Homo sapiens: one gene and its partners. The protein of the gene in region 2 interacts with the protein of the main gene of each other region in a biochemical or structural test. Each region holds a gene or a part of one and is shown on either strand. Other genes may lie near its edges.

The links. The genes of interacting proteins can lie anywhere in the genome.
Region 1: the proteins of PLEKHG7 (region 2) and ARHGEF12 interact in a test that uses a peptide from one of them, tested with the Homo sapiens proteins (one large-scale study listed by IntAct).
Region 3: the proteins of PLEKHG7 (region 2) and TAMALIN interact in a test that uses a peptide from one of them, tested with the Homo sapiens proteins (one large-scale study listed by IntAct).
Region 4: the proteins of PLEKHG7 (region 2) and FRMPD1 interact in a test that uses a peptide from one of them, tested with the Homo sapiens proteins (one large-scale study listed by IntAct).

What each region holds. Positions count from the first base shown.
Region 1 is NC_000011.10:120,475,913-120,480,264, forward strand, and holds part of ARHGEF12 (rho guanine nucleotide exchange factor 12), read left to right. Parts: intron 1-748; coding exon 749-836; intron 837-1,306; coding exon 1,307-1,393; intron 1,394-1,534; coding exon 1,535-1,614; intron 1,615-2,243; coding exon 2,244-2,477; intron 2,478-4,047; coding exon 4,048-4,352. UniProt on the Homo sapiens protein: May play a role in the regulation of RhoA GTPase by guanine nucleotide-binding alpha-12 (GNA12) and alpha-13 (GNA13). Acts as guanine nucleotide exchange factor (GEF) for RhoA GTPase and may act as GTPase-activating protein (GAP) for GNA12 and GNA13.
Region 2 is NC_000012.12:92,705,196-92,710,399, reverse strand, and holds part of PLEKHG7 (pleckstrin homology domain-containing family G member 7), read right to left. Parts: intron 3,930-5,204; coding exon of another isoform or gene 3,769-3,929; coding exon 3,262-3,768; coding exon of another isoform or gene 3,247-3,261; exon of another isoform or gene 2,751-3,246; coding exon 2,728-2,750; coding exon of another isoform or gene 2,685-2,727; exon of another isoform or gene 1,851-2,684; intron 1-1,850.
Region 3 is NC_000012.12:52,013,168-52,017,241, reverse strand, and holds the end of TAMALIN (protein TAMALIN), read right to left. Parts: intron 3,556-4,074; coding exon 3,462-3,555; intron 3,366-3,461; coding exon 3,299-3,365; intron 3,108-3,298; coding exon 3,041-3,107; intron 2,549-3,040; coding exon 2,043-2,548; 3' UTR 1,353-2,042; downstream 1-1,352. UniProt on the Homo sapiens protein: Plays a role in intracellular trafficking and contributes to the macromolecular organization of group 1 metabotropic glutamate receptors (mGluRs) at synapses.
Region 4 is NC_000009.12:37,653,954-37,658,305, reverse strand, and holds part of FRMPD1 (FERM and PDZ domain-containing protein 1), read right to left. Parts: intron 1-4,352. UniProt on the Homo sapiens protein: Stabilizes membrane-bound GPSM1, and thereby promotes its interaction with GNAI1.

The sequences.
Region 1 (4,352 bases), on a different chromosome or scaffold from region 2:
GGTCCCTTTTAAAACTTGTTAGTTTCATGGTGGCAAAATAAATTTGTGACCTCTTTTCTCCACTACTCACTGAATATTATTAACTAACAACTTAGCAAAAGTGCAGTTCAAAATAAATGCAAAAGAGTAATAGCATTTAATCTGGTAATTTGGATTTATTTATTTTTTTTCTTTTGAGACGAGGGTCCCACCCTGTCACCCAGGCTGGAGTGCAGTGGTACAACCTTGGCACACTGCAACCTCCACATCCCAGGCTCAAGCAATTCTTCAACCTCAGCCTCCTGAGTAGCTGGGACTACAGGCATGCACCACCATGACCTGGCTAATTTTTTTGTTTTATGTAGAGGCAGGGTTTCGCCATGCTGCCCAGGCTGGTCTCGAACTCCTGAGCTCCAAGCGGTCCACCTGCCTCGGCCTCCTAAAGTACTGGGATTACAGGTGTGAGCCACCGTGCCCGGCCAGTAATTTGGATTTTTGACATGCTTTTAGCAAAGTTTCTAGTAAATTATTGTGGAATTAGTGCTAATTCGTATAATCTTTGTTTTATTGAAGTACAATAAATATAGTACAATAAATACGTTAATATGGTAAGTTGCACAAATTTTAAGTGTACATCTTGATGAATTTTAAAGTAAATATATGTAACCTTTATCTAGTTTAAGGGGCAGACTATTTCAAGACCCTAAAAACATCCCTCATGGCCTCCCCAGGTCATAGTATTAGAGTAATCTTGTATTGTTTTTTCCAGATAACAAAGCTTTATTCGTCATTTCCATGTCAGACAATGGCGCTCAGATTTATGAACTGGTGGCACAGACAGTTTCTGAAAAGACTGTGTATGTATCAGATATGGCTACCTTGCTATAGCTAATATTTTCATTATCCCAAGCGTAATATTCCATAAACTTAACTTTGTTTTTATAATGTATGGAAACCAAGCACTTCCTCTGTACTCTTTTAGAGACGTTCTACTATGAACTTGTTCTTTTTTAGGTTGATGCCTTTTATTTTGATTCTATTCTGAAAGTTTATTTCCTAAAGAAAAAATTGTGCAAAATGTCAAGTGAAGTTTTTTTAATGTGTCCATAGATTTCTCTTAAGGTATAGTTTTGGACTCTCGCCTTAATAGTGTGTTGCCAAAATAAAGATATTCTCTGGCAGAGTGGGTTTTGTTGTTGTTGTTGTTGTTGTTGTTGTTGTTGTTGTTGGTTGATTTGGTTTTTGTTTAGTTTTGCTTTCTGAGTATATTTAAAGGATATTTCTTTTTTCTTTTTTGTATTTTGGATTTCTTTCCAACTTTCTGAAGCTGGCAGGACCTAATCTGTCGGATGGCTGCATCAGTGAAGGAGCAATCCACAAAGCCAATTCCATTACCACAGTCAACACCTGGCGAGTGAGTGTTCCTTTGCATTGTAGTAGGACTTATTTTATGTTTTGGGTTGGAAAAGACTAGGATAATTATTATGTTTTGTTGCGATGATGTTTAGATACCTCAGGAAGGTAAAAGTTTTTTTTTTTTTTTTTTTCTCTACAGAGGAGATAATGATGAAGAAGATCCTTCAAAATTAAAAGAGGAGCAGCATGGCATTTCAGTCACTGGTTTGCAGAGTCCAGGTACACTCTTCTGAAGAGTTCAATGGAGAATGTGCTCTATTATCTGTTAAAATGCTGGCCGGATGTGGTGGCTCATGCCTGTAATCCCAGTGCTTTGGGAGGTCGAGATAGGCGTATCACCTGAGGCCAGGAGTTAGAGGCCAACCTGACCAACATGACAAAACCCTGTCTCTACTAAAAAATACAAAAATTAGCCGGGCATGGTGGTAGGTGCCTGTAATCCCAGCTACTTGGGAGGCTGAGGCAGGGAGAATTGCTTGAACCCAGGAGGCGGAGGTTACGGTGAGCCGAGATCGTGCCATTGCACTCCAGCCTGGGCAACAAGACCGAAACACCAAAAAAAAAAAAGAAAAAAAGAAAAAAAAGAAAATAAAATAAAATGCAAAGAAACTTTAATACTGTTTGGTTTATGCAGGTTCCAGCATCAGAGATTCAGTTTAACAAACTTTGCCTTTGAGCCTTCTGTGTGTCAGTATAACACTGTTCTAAGTGATGTGTATTTTTCTTAACAGATGATCTCTGTAGTTTATGGATTGTTTTTTTTTTTTCTGATTCTTCCCTGAATGCTTCATGTTAAAAGTTAAAAGCTTTGTTTAGATATAGTCTACCTTTTCTATTCCATTGGACAGACAGAGATTTGGGATTAGAATCTACCTTAATATCGTCAAAACCTCAGTCTCATTCACTGAGTACCTCTGGGAAATCAGAGGTACGTGATCTGTTTGTGGCTGAGAGACAGTTTGCAAAGGAACAACATACAGATGGGACACTAAAGGAAGTTGGAGAAGATTATCAAATCGCAATCCCAGATTCACACCTGCCTGTCTCAGAAGAACGGTGGGCATTGGATGCACTAAGAAATTGTAAGTTTTATTCATAACTTATTACAGATACTTACTAAGTATGACACTCATGTGCCATCCCTAAAGTATGTGGATTTATCAAACTCCACTTATTCTTCTAGTTCTATTGTGGAGATTATAGTATTCTCTACAGTGGCCCATGCCACAGGCACACACACACATGCCACTCTGTTAGCTCCCCACCCCCCTGCCTGGTTCAGAATCACTGTTAAAATGGGAGGATAGCATATCTCTCAGTTGTATTGAGGTGGGAAAAAGGCTGAGAACAATTTCTTTGGCTGGGGAGAACCACTTGAAATTTTTAAACCAGCGTATGACTAAAGGTATGAAAAAAGATTAATCTGGCTGAAAGCGGTGGAAGGATTTGAATGGAAAGAGGTATGGAATGGTGTACTTACTAAATAAGCTATTATAATAGTCTGGCCTGAGACTAAAAGAGTTTGGACTAGAATGTTATCAGAAGGAATAAGAAGAAACTGAGAAGTCATCAAATGCTTAAAATAATTGACTTCTTTGAATGTGAGGTCAAAGGAAAGGGAATATTTAGAGATAATTTCATTAATCTAGTCAGAAATAAGAGTCAGAAAAGGACTACCACTGCTTCCCCCACCTCCTTCCATTGTACTTTCTTTTTTCTTTCTTTTGATTTGGTAGAATTATAGGCTCAGTTTTAAAGCATGTCAAGATTAAGATAATGAATGACAAAACACTAAAAAGTGAGTAACTAGCAGGAAGTTAGAGTTTTAGGAGTGAAACTTTAGAGAGAGGTTAGGAAGAGATAGAGATGTGAGCATCAGAGCCATGAGACTTCCTGGCATCTCTCAGGAAGTGATTGTAGAGCAGAAGGACAGAGGATGAGAGACCTAAGTGGAACCTGTTGCCTAAAGAAACATGACAGACATTAAGCTAGTGATGAGAGCAGAGAATTGGTTATTTAAAACCTACAATATTTTTTATACCTTCTCCTGAATTAACAGTCTTAATAATTTCTGATGGTTGGAATAACATTGTCCCAATAACTCTATCATTGTCTGGGTGACCTCATAGCATACACTTGGCCCATTCAAAATTAAATTGGTTCTTATTTTCAGTAAATGTATGTATCTCATAAAATTAGAGGAAATAATATGCATATAGTGTCTGGATCTGGAAAAAGCAGAACTTTTTTTTAGCTTTTTCTGTCTAGCTTAACACAGCCTTTCAACATTCTTAAGAAGTACCTTTAGGGTATTATTCTAGTTATATAGAAGAAAAAATAGAGGCATGATATTGGTTATTGAGGAGTTCTAAATAGTAGTATCTCCCTATTCAGAATGCTTAGATCTTTTCAAGTTTAGTTTAACGTTAAATCTTCTCTAAAAGATGGTGCTTTATTTCATCTTCAAAACAAAATGGAAAATGATTGTATGAAGTAAGATGATTGTATGAAATTAATAATTAACATTTTAATATGTCATTAAAAGATACTTTTTAAAGATAGATCATTGGTAAGTCAGCTAATTTAATTCTTGCAGCCTGAGGTTATAGTTGTGAATATGTTTTTTTTCCCCCTCCTTCCTAAATCGTTTAGTGGGTTTGTTGAAGCAGTTGCTGGTGCAACAGCTAGGTTTGACTGAGAAGAGCGTTCAGGAAGACTGGCAACATTTCCCAAGATACAGAACAGCCTCTCAGGGGCCGCAGACAGACAGTGTCATCCAGAACTCTGAAAATATTAAGGCCTATCATTCTGGTGAAGGACATATGCCCTTTAGAACTGGAACTGGTGACATTGCAACTTGTTACAGTCCACGGACTTCAACTGAATCTTTTGCTCCACGGGATTCAGTGGGACTGGCACCCCAGGATAGCCAGGCAAGTAACATTTTAGTAATGGAC
Region 2 (5,204 bases):
CAGTGGGTTCATGCTCATGGAATTCACTGGTCTTACCATGTTCCCCATTATCCTGAAGCAGCTAGATTGACAGAATGGTGGAATGGCCTTTTGAAGTCACAATCGTAGTGCCAACTAGGTGACAATACTTTGCAGGGCTGGGACAAAGTTTTCTGGATGGCCATGTAATGCTCTGAATCAGCATCCAATATATGGTACTGTTTCTCCCATAGCCAGGATTCACAGGTTCAGGAATCAAGGGGTGGAAGTCAAAGTGGCACTACTCATCATCACCCCTAGTGATCCACTAGCCAAATTTTTGCCTCCTGTTCCTGTGACATTACGTTCTGCTGGCCTAGAGGTCTTAGTTCCAGAGGGAGGAACACTGCCACCAGGAGACGCAAGAAAGTTTCCATTAAACTGAAGTTAAAATTGCCACCTGGACACTTTGGGCTCCTCCTACCTTTAAGTCAACAGGCTAAGAAGGGAGTTATAGGTGCCCACCACCACACCCAGCTTATTTAAAGAAAAAATATTTTTAGTAGAGATGAGGTTTCACTATGTTGGCCAGGCTGATCTCAAACTCCTGACCTCAAGTGATCCGCCTGCCTGGCCCTTCCACAGTGCTGGGATTATAGGCATGAGCCATTGTGCCCAGCCTGACCTAGCTGTTCTTTTAAAATTTACCAAGACTATTTTTGTTATTTCCTCACAGATTTCATATGGCAATGGAAATTACCTTCACATCATTTTTTTGCAAATGGCTTCATGCATCCCATTGATCTGCCTTTATGTCTGCCGGCTCCATCTAATAATCAGAGCTGGACCCAGACTTTACCTGCTCTAGGAAACATTCCTTGATTTAAGACTCACAAATATACATATAGTACATCCACCCCTGGTGCCTTCTCTAACCAATTATTTACTCAAAATCTCCACTTAGATGTTTCATAGTTCCTCAAACTCAACATGTCCAAACCTGAACACAAGACCTACACTCTAACCACTCATATTTAATTTCTTTACCCAAGTTTATCTAGGTCAGTGAATGGACACCTTGGTTACCCAGTTGAACAAGCCAGAAGCTTGGAGGTCATTCTTGAAGATTCCTTTCCCTCACCCTGATAGGCTACCATTCACAAAGTCTGGGGGATTGTATCTCCTAAATATCTCTTGCATTGAGATACTTCTTTTTAACCCCACTGCCTTCATCATAATCTAACTTAACAACTTCTCATACCTGAACATTCGAATTATTTGACTCAAGTCTACTTGCATCTAAATCCCAGGTATATCTGACATCCATCTGATCATATCAATTCATCAAATGGTTTCACACTGCTCTTAGGGTAAGGAATAAAATTTCTCAAAATCTTATTAAAATAATTCGACTCTAAACATAATTTTTTTTTCTAAGACTACCCTTTTCCACTTTCTTTGACACAACTGAACTAGATCTCATCTGAGAGCTTTATTCTGTTTCACATGTATGGAAGATTTACATTAACAGCCCCACTCTTCCCCATTCCTTACATCCATACACTTTGCCATGTAACATTTCAATGCTCTCCCACTGTTGGTAACATGTAATTCCCTGACGCTGAGTTCAACTGAGTGACTTGCTTTGGTCAATAAAATTAGACCAGATTCAGAGCCCAGGCTCCAAGAGGCCTTGCATGTTTCTACTTGTCCTCTTGAACCTCTCCCTTCACTGTATAAAGAATCTGCTTAATTGATCCCATGGACCCATGGGAGCCCTTTGATCCCATGAGCAGGATAAGGAACATTTGGAGTGGAACTGCTCAGCTAAACCCAGCCTAGACCAAGTCACCCCCAGGGAACACAGAGATTTATAAGAAACAATAACTGTCTGTTACTTTAAGTGGTTTTTTATCTAGCAACAGCTAGCTGATACACAGACATAACAATTTGCATTTCCCTATGGCTTGGTAAGTATCTTCTACCTTTGTTGGTACAATTAGGCCAACAAGGATTAAAATCAACAAAGAATGTGTACATGGATGTTATCCTTACTGCTATGAATATCAAACTATTGCTTGAGGATTGAGGTCCAGTAATAAAACAGCAGCTATTTCTCCAAAAAAATCCTCTGTGACTTTTCAAATGAAATGAGGGCTTTCCTGCCAATCCCACAAGTCAGGAAGATAAAATTGGGCATGGATCTTTCCCTTGCTGCTGCAGAAACTCTTCATCCCTGTCAGAGATGGCAGATCCATTGCTACAACCAGGGGGCCGTGCTGAAAGTTCAGAGCTGGTTTTGGAAATGACACAGTCTACTTCATTCTGGATAAGGGCACAGTCTGTCATAACAGGTTATTTTAAAGGTCACCCTAGATTTAACCAGGACATCTTGTTCCTTTCTTTTATCCTCCAAATTTTTCTTTGAAAAGCTGTTGCATATCTCTGGCCTTTCTATTTTCTCTACCAGACAAAACCTATTACTAAGTGGATGTTAATTAAGCCACAGGGCCAAGACATTGACAATTCAAAATGAAAACTATGACTGCATATGGCATTGTATCCTGCCCCCAAATGCTGTGCTCTTAAAGGGAGACTCTTGAAATGAAAACTCGTGCACCTATAAATGCGAAGAGTGACTTGAGTGCTATAAAACAAAGTGCACTGGTTAACACACCGTCAGCTTTGTTATGTCAGGACAGAAATAAAAATCTAATAGTAAATAGTCAACAGATGTCATAGCACCGGAGAAAATAAATGCATACACACCTGGATGGGTGCAATTCTTCTCCCTGAAATAAATTTTAAGAACATATGTTTTAGTCTTGCTCAAACCCATCCCAAACTCCAAAGCAAACATGTTGAAAGGAGAAACAATGAGCCCTCCTAGTTAAAACATGTTTTACATTTTGGTGGGATTGGAAATTTGAATAACTGGCTCTTTCTCCCCTTTTAAATCAGTGACACGACGTTGTCTTTAAATAGTGTGCATTTGCAAGAGGGCCCCCATTGCTCTCGGGTACCTGACAGACCATCGGTAAGCCTGGCCTTGGTGCATCCTTTCTCAAAGTGCCTCTAAGGACAGAAGAAAGTGAGCGAGATCATTTTCTTTCCTCCCCAGATTGCTGCCCTCCTTTCACTTAAGAGCCAATGCTTCCTAAAGAGAATGTGTCCCCTCAGTGTGACTTCCTGTGCTGTCTCCTTTTTAGGATCTACTGGCCCTTGGGGGAACTAAGCAACTCTGAGATCTATTTTGCTTTGTGGTTCAGCAACTGAGAGGCCGGAGGCTTAGAGCTGTGTTACCTGAGGACTAGGGTGTCGTAGGGTGGGGCTGGGCAGGAAGTGGCCTTCTTGCTGCCGAAGAGAGGCCTGGTGAAGGGACCCTTCATTGACAGGCTGAAGCTCAGGAGGGAGATACTTGTCAGTGGGCCGGGTTTGGGGCTCCAGTGAGTCAGCTGCATTCAGGGCCCTTTCAGGTTCAGAGGTCAATCTTGAGTGGAGTCTCAAGGGTGACAGCAAGTGTGAAGAATCCTTTGGGCTTCCTGGCAGGCTCTTCGAAAGGTAACATGGGAAGCCCACAGGAGCTCCCCAGCTTCCCCAGGTGGTCACCTGCCAGGCATCCTGCCTTGTCCCACAGCCACGGGTCCTTAATCTCCTCAAAGTGGGCGAGGTGGAGATGCGGCCTGGGGCTTGCCGGTCAAACTGGAGGAGACTCCCCTGGTTCTTTGGCAGGCTCCTCAGCGAGGGCCGAGGAGAGGCTCCACAGTCTTGGGGTGGCACCTCTGGACAGAATGACTCTGTTTTCTCCATAAAGCTAAGAGGTTCTACTGTTGGTAGAAGGTTCCAGAAGACGTATGAGTTGCTGTTCTCTGGATCACATGGAGGGTGCTCAATTTCTGCATCCAAGTGCCATGCTTCCTCTCGTAGTTCTTTTCCTTTTCCAGAGGAGAATGTCAAGCAGGTTATTGCATCTGTAGTGAGGAAGAGCAGACTGTGAAATATGTAGCAAATGAGGGAGACTGCAGTGAGAAAAAAGGTCTAAAATTTCAAAGGAAAACTTCTAATTCTTCATAGGCAATAGAGCTCAGTTCACATCAGCATCCTTTACGTTCAGAAGATAATTAATATACGTGACTCCAGCCTTCTCATCTAAATAGCGTATTGAAGTCTGTTTACTGTCTACTTAATATTCCTTCTAGGTTCAAACAAAAAAGCCTTTAAAAACTTTGGTAACTTAAGGTACTTCCTGGAAACCACATAGCTCCTCCCCTTGTGATTATTCCATTTTAAGAGAATCAAATATACATTAAATCCTCCTTATCATCTACATTTATGTATGTATGTACATATTGTGGTGCATTCTGGGGATGCAAGAACAAGGAAAACAAGCCTCCTTCCCTCAAGGTTTAAATTACAGAATGAGACAGGCTTTGAAGGTAACTGATGTAAAGTATCTGACAACGTCTTTTATCTTAGATTCTATCAATCTTTACATTTTGGAAAAAGGACTTGCAGGTTTGAAAAGAAAAACCCAGACATCACCAGGTACCCTACTGTTCATGATTGGAGGTGTTTTTTGCAATCTATGCATGCAGAATTATCTCTTCTCATGCTCAAGAAAAGCTGACCCTTCCATTTCACAGCTTGATTCATGGGAGTGGCTTATTGCAGTTTCGTTATTCTGTACTTTCCCACATGAAGAAGGTATGTGTGGGAAAACATCAATCCTTACACATCCCTTATGGCATGAGAGTTGATGCTTGATGATTTGCAGACCAGGTGTGGGACTGTGGGACAGGCGAGAGACCCATCTTCCCTGGCCGCAGATGGCATGGGAGGTGGCTTCAGACTGTGCGTGGATTGTTTGTGGATGGAACATTAGTAGTTGACCGTATATTCCAAGATCATCAATAATAGTTTTAGTAAGTTTATCATTCTAAAGCAGAACTCAGCAATCTGAAACCCTTTGCCCACATTTGGATAGCCAAAATTTAAGAATGGCTAATAATTTACTTCTTATAATTTTAATTGCATGGGCAATACTTTTTAGTAGAACTTTTCTAGGGTGTATTATTTGCTTCTTTAACTTGATATAGAGAAGGCTGAAAACCAATAAACCTTTTCCTTATAACCTGACCTCATTCTGTTGACTATCATTCTAGTACTTTGCCAAAATACAGTGATTACTACTATGTTTACTATAGTTCTGTGGAGAATACAATAATTGTTACAGGCTTCTATAGCAT
Region 3 (4,074 bases), about 41 Mb from region 2:
GGGACCCACTCAAAAAGCAAGAACCATGGTGCAGGACAGGTAGGGAGGGTCTGCTCAGACCTCTCTCAAAGCCACCCTTTGCATGCTGGTTACTCCCCGGGAGGAGCACTGGAGCAGGGGCCTCAAGTCCCAGGCCCAGCTCTGACACTAGCTTGCTGTATGACCCGACAGGTCACTTCAAAGAGGTCGTGACTACCACTTGGAGATGCTTGAGCACACACCATGTTGGCACACACTGTATTGAGGGTCTACCATGTGCTAGCATCAGGCAAGAAAAAAGCAGTGAAGACAGACAAGGCTCCTGAGCCCTGTGCAAGAAGCGTGCATCCTCCCGGGTGGGGCGGGCAGGCAAAGATAAACCCATAAAAGTCAAGACAGTCTCGGATGGCGATGCACAGTCTGATGGGAATAAAACAGGGCTGTCACAGGGGAGGGCATGACTGTATTTACCACTGGGTGGGAAGGTCTTCGGGAGGCAGGGCTGAGGACTGAAGGAGCCACCTGTGGGAGGGGTAAGAGCACAGACCCTGATAGAAGGGGTCTGAAGTGTGCCAGGTACAGCCAGCAGCGCAGCCAGAGCGGGGAGTAAGAAGCAGAGGCCGGCAGGGGTCAGACTCTCATCCTGGGAGGCCGGGCGCGGTGGCTCACGCATGTAATCTCAGCATTTTGGGAGGCCAAGGCAGGCAGATCACCTGAGGTCAGGAGTTCGAGACCAGCCTGGCCAACATGGTGAAACCCCGTCTCTACTAAAAATACAACAATTAGCTGGGTGTGGTGGCGCCTGCCTGTAACCTCAGCTACTCGGGAGGCTGAGGCGGGAGAATCACTTGAATCCAGGAGACAGAGGTTACAATGAACTGAGATCGGGCCACTGCACTCCAGCCTGGGCAACAGAGGGAGACTCCATCTCAAAAAAGAAAAATCTCATCCTGGGGTGGGAAACCGCTGAAGACTGCTAGAACAACAGAGTGAGCCGTGATTGGGCCCCTCACAGGCCAGGTGGTAATGCCTCAGGTCCCTACAGATCTGGCTTGTGCCCCTCAAGGGAGACCTCAGAAGCTGGGAAGAAAGGCATGCCAAGCACACGTATTTCTACAGGGATGGCTAAGGACTTGAGGCAAGCCTTGGTCACCACCTGCTTGGGTATCTGGGGAGGGAGGCTCAAGTTGTGAAGAAGCGTGGGGCCTCCAGCTCAGGCCCATACATGTAAGTTTAAATCTCCCAGCCTATTTCCCTGGCTTCAGGCTGCAAGAAAACAAGATGTGTGTGCGTTGGGCGGGGGTTGGGATGGTGGAGTCAGAGCTTGCCCCAGCCCAATCCTCCCCCTCAGGCAGTCACCACACTGACACAGATGCAAAAAACCATCCATTTATACAGTTTGTGGTTCAGAAGCAACAATATGCACAACGGTGGAACAGTCTGTGCTGTCCCCACCCCACCTGAACTCGCCAGTTCCTGTCTCCCAAGGGGCACAGAACACAGGCCCCCTGCCTGGCAGGACCCGACTTAGTTACAGGCCCCTGGGAGGGGCGAAGCCCTTAGGGGTCGAGGCCAGGAGGGAGGAGGACCAGCACCTGATGCCCCTGGGGGCCCGCTGGGTCATGGAACTGTGTGTGTGGAGGGTGGGGGGTCAGCCCACCACGGGCCATTTCTCCCCAAGGCTAAGGGCGGGGGAGCAAGTAAAGCTGAGGAGAGGGCTTCATGGGACAGGGTTCCCATCCCCTGCTGGGAGGGTGTTCCTGGATACCCCACAAGGCACTACAGATGCAGACTGTAGGCGAGCACCCCCATCTTTGGCCCCCGATTGCCTGGCTCTCCCCCTGCCCCAGCTCCCACTGTGGTTTGGCGGGGGAGAAGAGAAGGGGCTGGGCCCCCCACTCCCTCAGCAGACACCAGCCAGGAACCGACCCGGCGGGCCGAGGCTAGGAAGGACCCTCTCCCGCTGCTCTGGGCTCCTGGGGTCCTCTTGGCTCGGCCTCCCCCTCTTTTAGCGCTGGCTGTTGCGAATAAATAAATAAATACCTCCCTGCCCGCCCCCGCCCCTACAGCTGGCTCTCCTCCTCCTCCAGGGAGCGGTTGAGTCCGGGGATGAACTTGAGCAGCCGCCGGCGGAAGCTGCGGTACTTGGTTTTGCGCAGGCCGGGGCCGCATAGGGCCTGCTCGCGAGCCTCAGTCCAGAGCGCGCCCGGCGCGCCCCCGCCTCCGCCCCCGCCAGGGCCCGCGCACCGCACACTGGCGCTGCGGCTCAGCGCGGCCCGCGGCCCAGGGCCCGGCCCCACGGCAGGGGTCTCGGCGGGGCCCGGGCCGAAGGCGCGGGCCGGGGGCGGCGGGGGCGGCAGCGCCGGCGGCTCGGAGTCCCCGAAGAAGCACGTGTGGTAGACGGCGTCGTCGGCGTCGCCCCTGGCCCGTCGGGCGCCTCCGCGGGGACGCCCGGGCACGGCGAGCAGAGGCCCGAAGGGCAGCGAGCCCGGGAGCAGGCCCGCGCCGTAGAGGCAGGAGCGCACCGACTCCAGCGTGTCGTAGATGCTGGGGTCCTTCACCACCAGGCCTGCGCAGAGACGGGAGAGGTAGGGGGCGGGTCAGGCCTGGACCGTGGTGGCCTCTGCAAAGGGTCGGAGGGCATGGGCGGGGCGTCCCCGCTCCGTCCTGCTGACCATCTCTGTGGCCCTGGCCAGGCACAAACCTGAGACCCTACTTCCCTCACCCGCAAATCAGGAATTATCACTCAGATCCTTATGGGGGCCGCTTAGCACAAACGGGCCTCGGAAATAATTGACACAAACTCTTTGAGCCCTGGTGTTCCCCTCTGTAAAGTGAAGATGACACTATCTGTTACTTACCTGCAGAGGGCTAGTGTGAGAATAACCAGAAATGTGGCTGCGGCAGTACCCAAAGTAGTAGTAGCTCAACAAACCTTGCTTTACTGTGGAGGTTTACTAGTAAACCGTTCTTTACTAGAACCCGCCAGTTCTGAGGGGGAAGCGCAGATGGGGTGTCTGTAGCAGAACAAGTGGCCCCTCACACCCCGGGATCTACTCACCATGCACCAGCCGCTGCTCCTGCACCATTAGGGACCTGTACTCTCCCCACTTCTCATACAGGGTTTGCTGCAAGAGACAGTCCCCACCCCACTGTCACAAGCTAGCAGGAAACTAGCAGGACGTGGGTACAGACGAGGGATCAGGGAGTAGACAAAAGAAATCTTCAGTTACAGGAGATTCAGCTGTAAGTGACCCCCCACAGGGCAGAGGCTTGGGAAGAGGAGGGTGGAGGCTGGACGTTATCTAGGTTCCCCTACCTTCAGGTACTGCAGACGAGCCTCCAGTTCTGCCTTCCGAATTGATGTCCCATATAGAGTTTCCAGTCTGAGGTTGGAGAATCAAAGCCTGAGTGAGCCACAGGCTGAGGAAATACCAAGAGGCTGAGCTCAGGAATTCAGGCACCTCGGCTCCCAGACATACCTGAGAACATTGCCTGACGCCTTAATGATGTCCACAATCTCTCGATGCCGGATGCCTTCCACATTCAGGCCATTGACGCTGGCGATGGTGTCCCCTGCCAGGCAGACAAGGGGGTTAGATTTGCTCCATGGGGCATGCTAGAATACCAGCCTCCTACCTTAGCCAGAAAGGGGAGAAGGGTGGGTAGTAACTCCAGGGAATACTCCTGAACTCCCTCCTCCAACTCCTCATGGTTCTCTGTAGATCTCCTCTGACATCTCTCATACTCGATCCAAACACACAGAACCACAGCCATTCTTGTGGGCCTGTAGTGACTACCAGGTTGTCCACGCCCAGCACCCCAGCCAAAGGGTGGGGACCTCACACACCCAACACCCTCACTCTGCCCTCAAGAAGTTCTGTCCGGCCGGGCGCGGTGGCTCACGCCTGTAATCCCAGCACTTTGGGAGGCCGAGGCGGGCGGATCACGAGGTCAGGAGATCGAGACCATCCTGGCTAACACGGTGAAACCCCGTCTCTACTAAAAATACAAAAAATTAGCCGGGCGTGGTAGCAGGCGCCTGTAGTCCCAGCTACTCGGGAGGCTGAGGCAGGAGAATGGCGTGAACCCGGG
Region 4 (4,352 bases), on a different chromosome or scaffold from region 2:
GGCCCAGTGCACAGCTCAGAAGGGGGACCCACCGGGACCTAACTGGCCTCAGGCTGTGCTAACGCAAATATAGATTCCGAAGTGAGGCTGCAGTGGGCTTGCTCCTGTCTGGGCTGATCAGACCCCCACCTGCACAGCGGTGTCCCATTCTTAGCTTTTCAGGGGGCCAGATAAAGTGGGCATTCTGCCTAAAGAAGTGAAGATGTGGGGGCCTGATCCCTGTCTTTGAAGGTCCAAGTGGCCTAACTAGCTGTCATAGGGAAGAAGAAATGGATTTTTTGTGTGTGGGGCTTCAAAGGACAGGATCGGGCCAATGGGGCAACCATTGCCGAGAGGAAGATTTTTGGCTTGGAATAATGAAGAACTTTGTAATAACCAGAGCCAACTGAGGATGGAATAGGAAGGTGGTGGGGGTTGGTAGGTCCAAGCAGAGGGAGGCTGGGTATGCTAGGGGAATTCCTGCACCACACAAAGGCTGTACTTGATCATCTCCGGAGCTGGCAGTCTTGTTTGAGGGTCTATGCTGGTAGCTAAAATATCTGGAAACATATGTGTGAATCTAGGTTTTCAGCACATAAACAAGGCACACTCTCACTAAGACACTTATTACGCAGTTTTTGCAAAGAGCTAAGTACTGAAAATAACCAGGAATGAGCTTGAGAAAGAGACCGTCTATTCTTCCATCTCCTATACATAAAATGTCCCTCACCCCAGGGAGAAAGAAAGAGGCCAAGTATGTATCTCCACAGAGACATCATCTTCTAACCAGACCAGGAACTAACAGCACATTCACAGGTACCAGGGGAGCCCTGGACAGTCTGGAGTGGTGTCTTTTTCCAGGGAAAGCCAGAGAGAACAGAGACTGCAGCTACTAAATAAATTATTTTTATAAGAACGAATAAATGCCATCCTCGTCTTTAATAATTGTTTTTCCTTTTGCATCCTTCTGAATTCTACATTGGAGCAAAGAAAACAACAAAGCAGTAACTCAGAAGCTTCACATGTGAATAGTTACAAGTCAGCATCAGACAGGGGTTTCAACTGGCAGGGGAGGTGGGATTGTTATCGTTGGTTTTAATACAAGCTGTAGCCTACACCCTATATTCTAGATACTCAAAGAACAGGAAGCACAGCATTTCTCAGCTGCCTGCACATCTGTCTTCTCTTAAGTCAAAAATCTCAGAGAATGATGCACTGTTGCATCCAGATGAATTCCTCTGAAGCTCTTTCCATTCAGGATTTTGAAATTTTGCCATATCACCCTTTTACTGAAGCAGCTGAGGTTCTCAGATCATTCCTTGAAAGAGGTCAAAAGAACTTTTAAATTTACCATCTTATCTTTTCCAACTTGTAATTAGTGTTTTTTTTTTTCTTTTTCACCAAAACAACTAATATTAAGGCCACATACCATTTAGCAGCCAGCTTGGGAAAGGATTGGTGGCCCAAACCACTTCTAACTGCTGGCAAAAAGGTCTCTAAACATCAGATGAGTTCCTGAAAACACTGTGTCACTTAATGAAAATAATGGCTTCTGCCCTCATATCAATCTGCCAAGCACCTAGTCCGGCTTCCCACTGTCCTTCAGGCAGATAGTTAACTGAAAAAAAAAAAGTCTCAGATTTGCAAACCTGTATAATGTAATCTGTAATTACCAAAACAAATTTAATCCACTGTTAGTACTGCTTCCATGAACATATATTAAGTTTAGTGTATATCTCAGGATACAGTAAAAGTACAACTACAATAGCTGTGGATAAACCAAAATTTTATACATTGATTGGTGTTAAGTGCATAGGTATATTTGGTGTTTGAAAGCTTTCTATACTGATCTTTTTTACAGTAAGGAACGCTTTTATAATATAAAGAATGATTGTCAAAAGCTTCAAGGTTCAAATTTTACACAGTATATTCCTTTAAAATAGGCACACTGAAAAGCTAAATTCAAAACTCAGACTCATCTTAGAGGTTGCATCAACCCATCATCAAATGAAGGAGCTACATCTTGAGGGATCAGAATGCCACGAGTGAGTTCAGCTGACAACCATATGCAACCCCTAAGCATCAGCCTCATGTTTCTGGCTTGACTCAAACCATTTCAGATATCGGGAAAATCACAGGCTTTTGTCAATCCGATACAGACCATTATCAAGCTTGCATTAGGGCTAGGCTCTGTGAAAAGGGTTGTGGGGTAGAAAGATGAAGGACATTGTGCCGGCCCTCCCAAGGGCTTTCTATGAGCTGTGGCCACATACACAAGTGACCGCACACAAAATCCTTCAAGGCTGACAGTAATGACTTCTCCATGAGAGGTACCAAGTATCAGGGAACAGTGAAATCCCTGGGATGAGGGGATCTGGAAGACAGCTTCCTAAGGGTGGTAGGATTTGAGCTTAGCCTTCAGGCATAGGCAGGACCACCAAGGCTAAAGCACATGCTAGACAGAGGGGCTAGACGGGGGAGCAAAGGCCTAGAGACCTGAGGCTAGGGGGATTAAGAGTTGGGAGGCTGGGCACGGGGACTCATGCCTGTAATCTCAGCACTTTGGGAGGCCGAGGCGGGTGGATCACAAGGTCAGGAGTTCGAGACCAGCCTGGTCAATATGGTGAAACCCCGTCTCTACGAAAAAATACAAAAATTAGCCGGGCATGGTGGCAGGTGCCTGTAGTCCCAGGTACTCAGGAGGCTGCGGCAGGGCAATTGCTTGAACCCGGGAGGCAGAGGTTGCAGTGAGCCGAGATCGCACCACTGCACTCCAGCCTGGGCAACAGAGCAAGACTCCATCTCAAAAAAAAAAAAAAAAAAAAAAAAAGAGTGGGGACATGGTGCAGAGGAGGGGGTGTGAGAGAAAGGATGGAGGTAGCCCATCATGCCTGCTGGGCTGAGGACTCGGGACTTCAGTATCCATACAGGGAAGACCCACTGAAAGGCTCTAAGGAGGAGCATGATGAGATCAGAGCCACACTTTACAGTACAGAGCACTGAAGCCTGATGCTCAGAGAGAATGGAAAGATGGGGGCATATTTGAGAGAGATTTTGGAAGTAAAAATAACAGGGCTTGGTCACTGTTACTTTACAGGGCAAGGTCACTTGGTCCTTACTGAGTAGATTTCAGTAAGGAGGGAACAAGGGAGAAGGCACAGACAATTAGCCTCCCCTGCTGTAGTTTCCAGCTTGGGAGGAGGAGGGGATGATGGCTGAAGGGTACCCCGCAGCAAGCGGGCACAGCCAGTATTTTGGTACCAGGGCTGGTGGCACCAGGGGCTCAGCTCCACTCTTGCTTTCCCTTTATGCATCAATGAGCACCTCCGGGGGCAGGGAAGGAGGGAGGGAAAGAGATCCTAAAGAAGGGTCTACTGTGCAATGTCCCCGAAGTTGTAGCAGGAGCAGCAGCAGCAGCAGCTCACCACACCACTCGGCCTGATCCTGCAAGTGAAAAGTGCTGTGGGTGGTCATTTCTTCAAAATTCCTAAAATATATAATTCTGTATTGAAGGGGCAGAGAGCCTGCTCTTGAGTCTCCCCGATAACTGTGAGGATAATACCTGTGCACACAGACTGTCTAGTTGTACATGCACCAAGCCCCTTCAGGCCTCCAGGCCTTAGCATTTGCTGTTCCTTCAGCCTGGAACAGTTTCCTCCTTCTCTCACCCTCAATTGAACTTTTATTTGGTGCTTACTACATAACTGGCACTATTCTAAGTACTTTACATGTATCGACTCATTCAGTTATCCAACAACCCTCTCAAGGAGGTACTGTTATTATCCCTAGTTTACAGATGAAAAAACTGAAGTTCAGAAGATTAAATAACCTGATAGTGGAATATATTTAGTTAGCCAAGGGGCAAGTATTCAAATCCAGGTGGTGTGGCCCCAGAGTCTGCATTCTCATACACAGAACTACCCTACCTCTTACAGATACAGAGCTGCTGCACTGACCCTCACCCAGCTCCAGGCAAGACTGGCTCCCTCTCTCCTGTGGCTCTCACTGGCTCAGATAGGCCTGCCCTGACCACCCTCCAATGGAGTCCCACTCCTACTACTTTCTCCCACATTTCCCCACTTATTTTCTTCCCAGCCTTTGGCACAACCTGTAGTTACCTTATTTATGTAATGACTTCTTCATTATTTTCTCCAACTAGAATATAAACTCCAGGAAGGTAGAGACCTTGCCTTTTGTTCCGATGTATTCTCGAGGCACCTAGAACAATTTTCTGGCAGAGAGCAGGTGTTCTATGAACAACCATTGATTGAAAAAATGAAGGACAGTACCATAGATGCTACATAGTGCTACACAGGGTCATAAGGTATTGCAATGTTATTCTTCACCCTCTGTCTTCTTTTTTTTAGAGATGG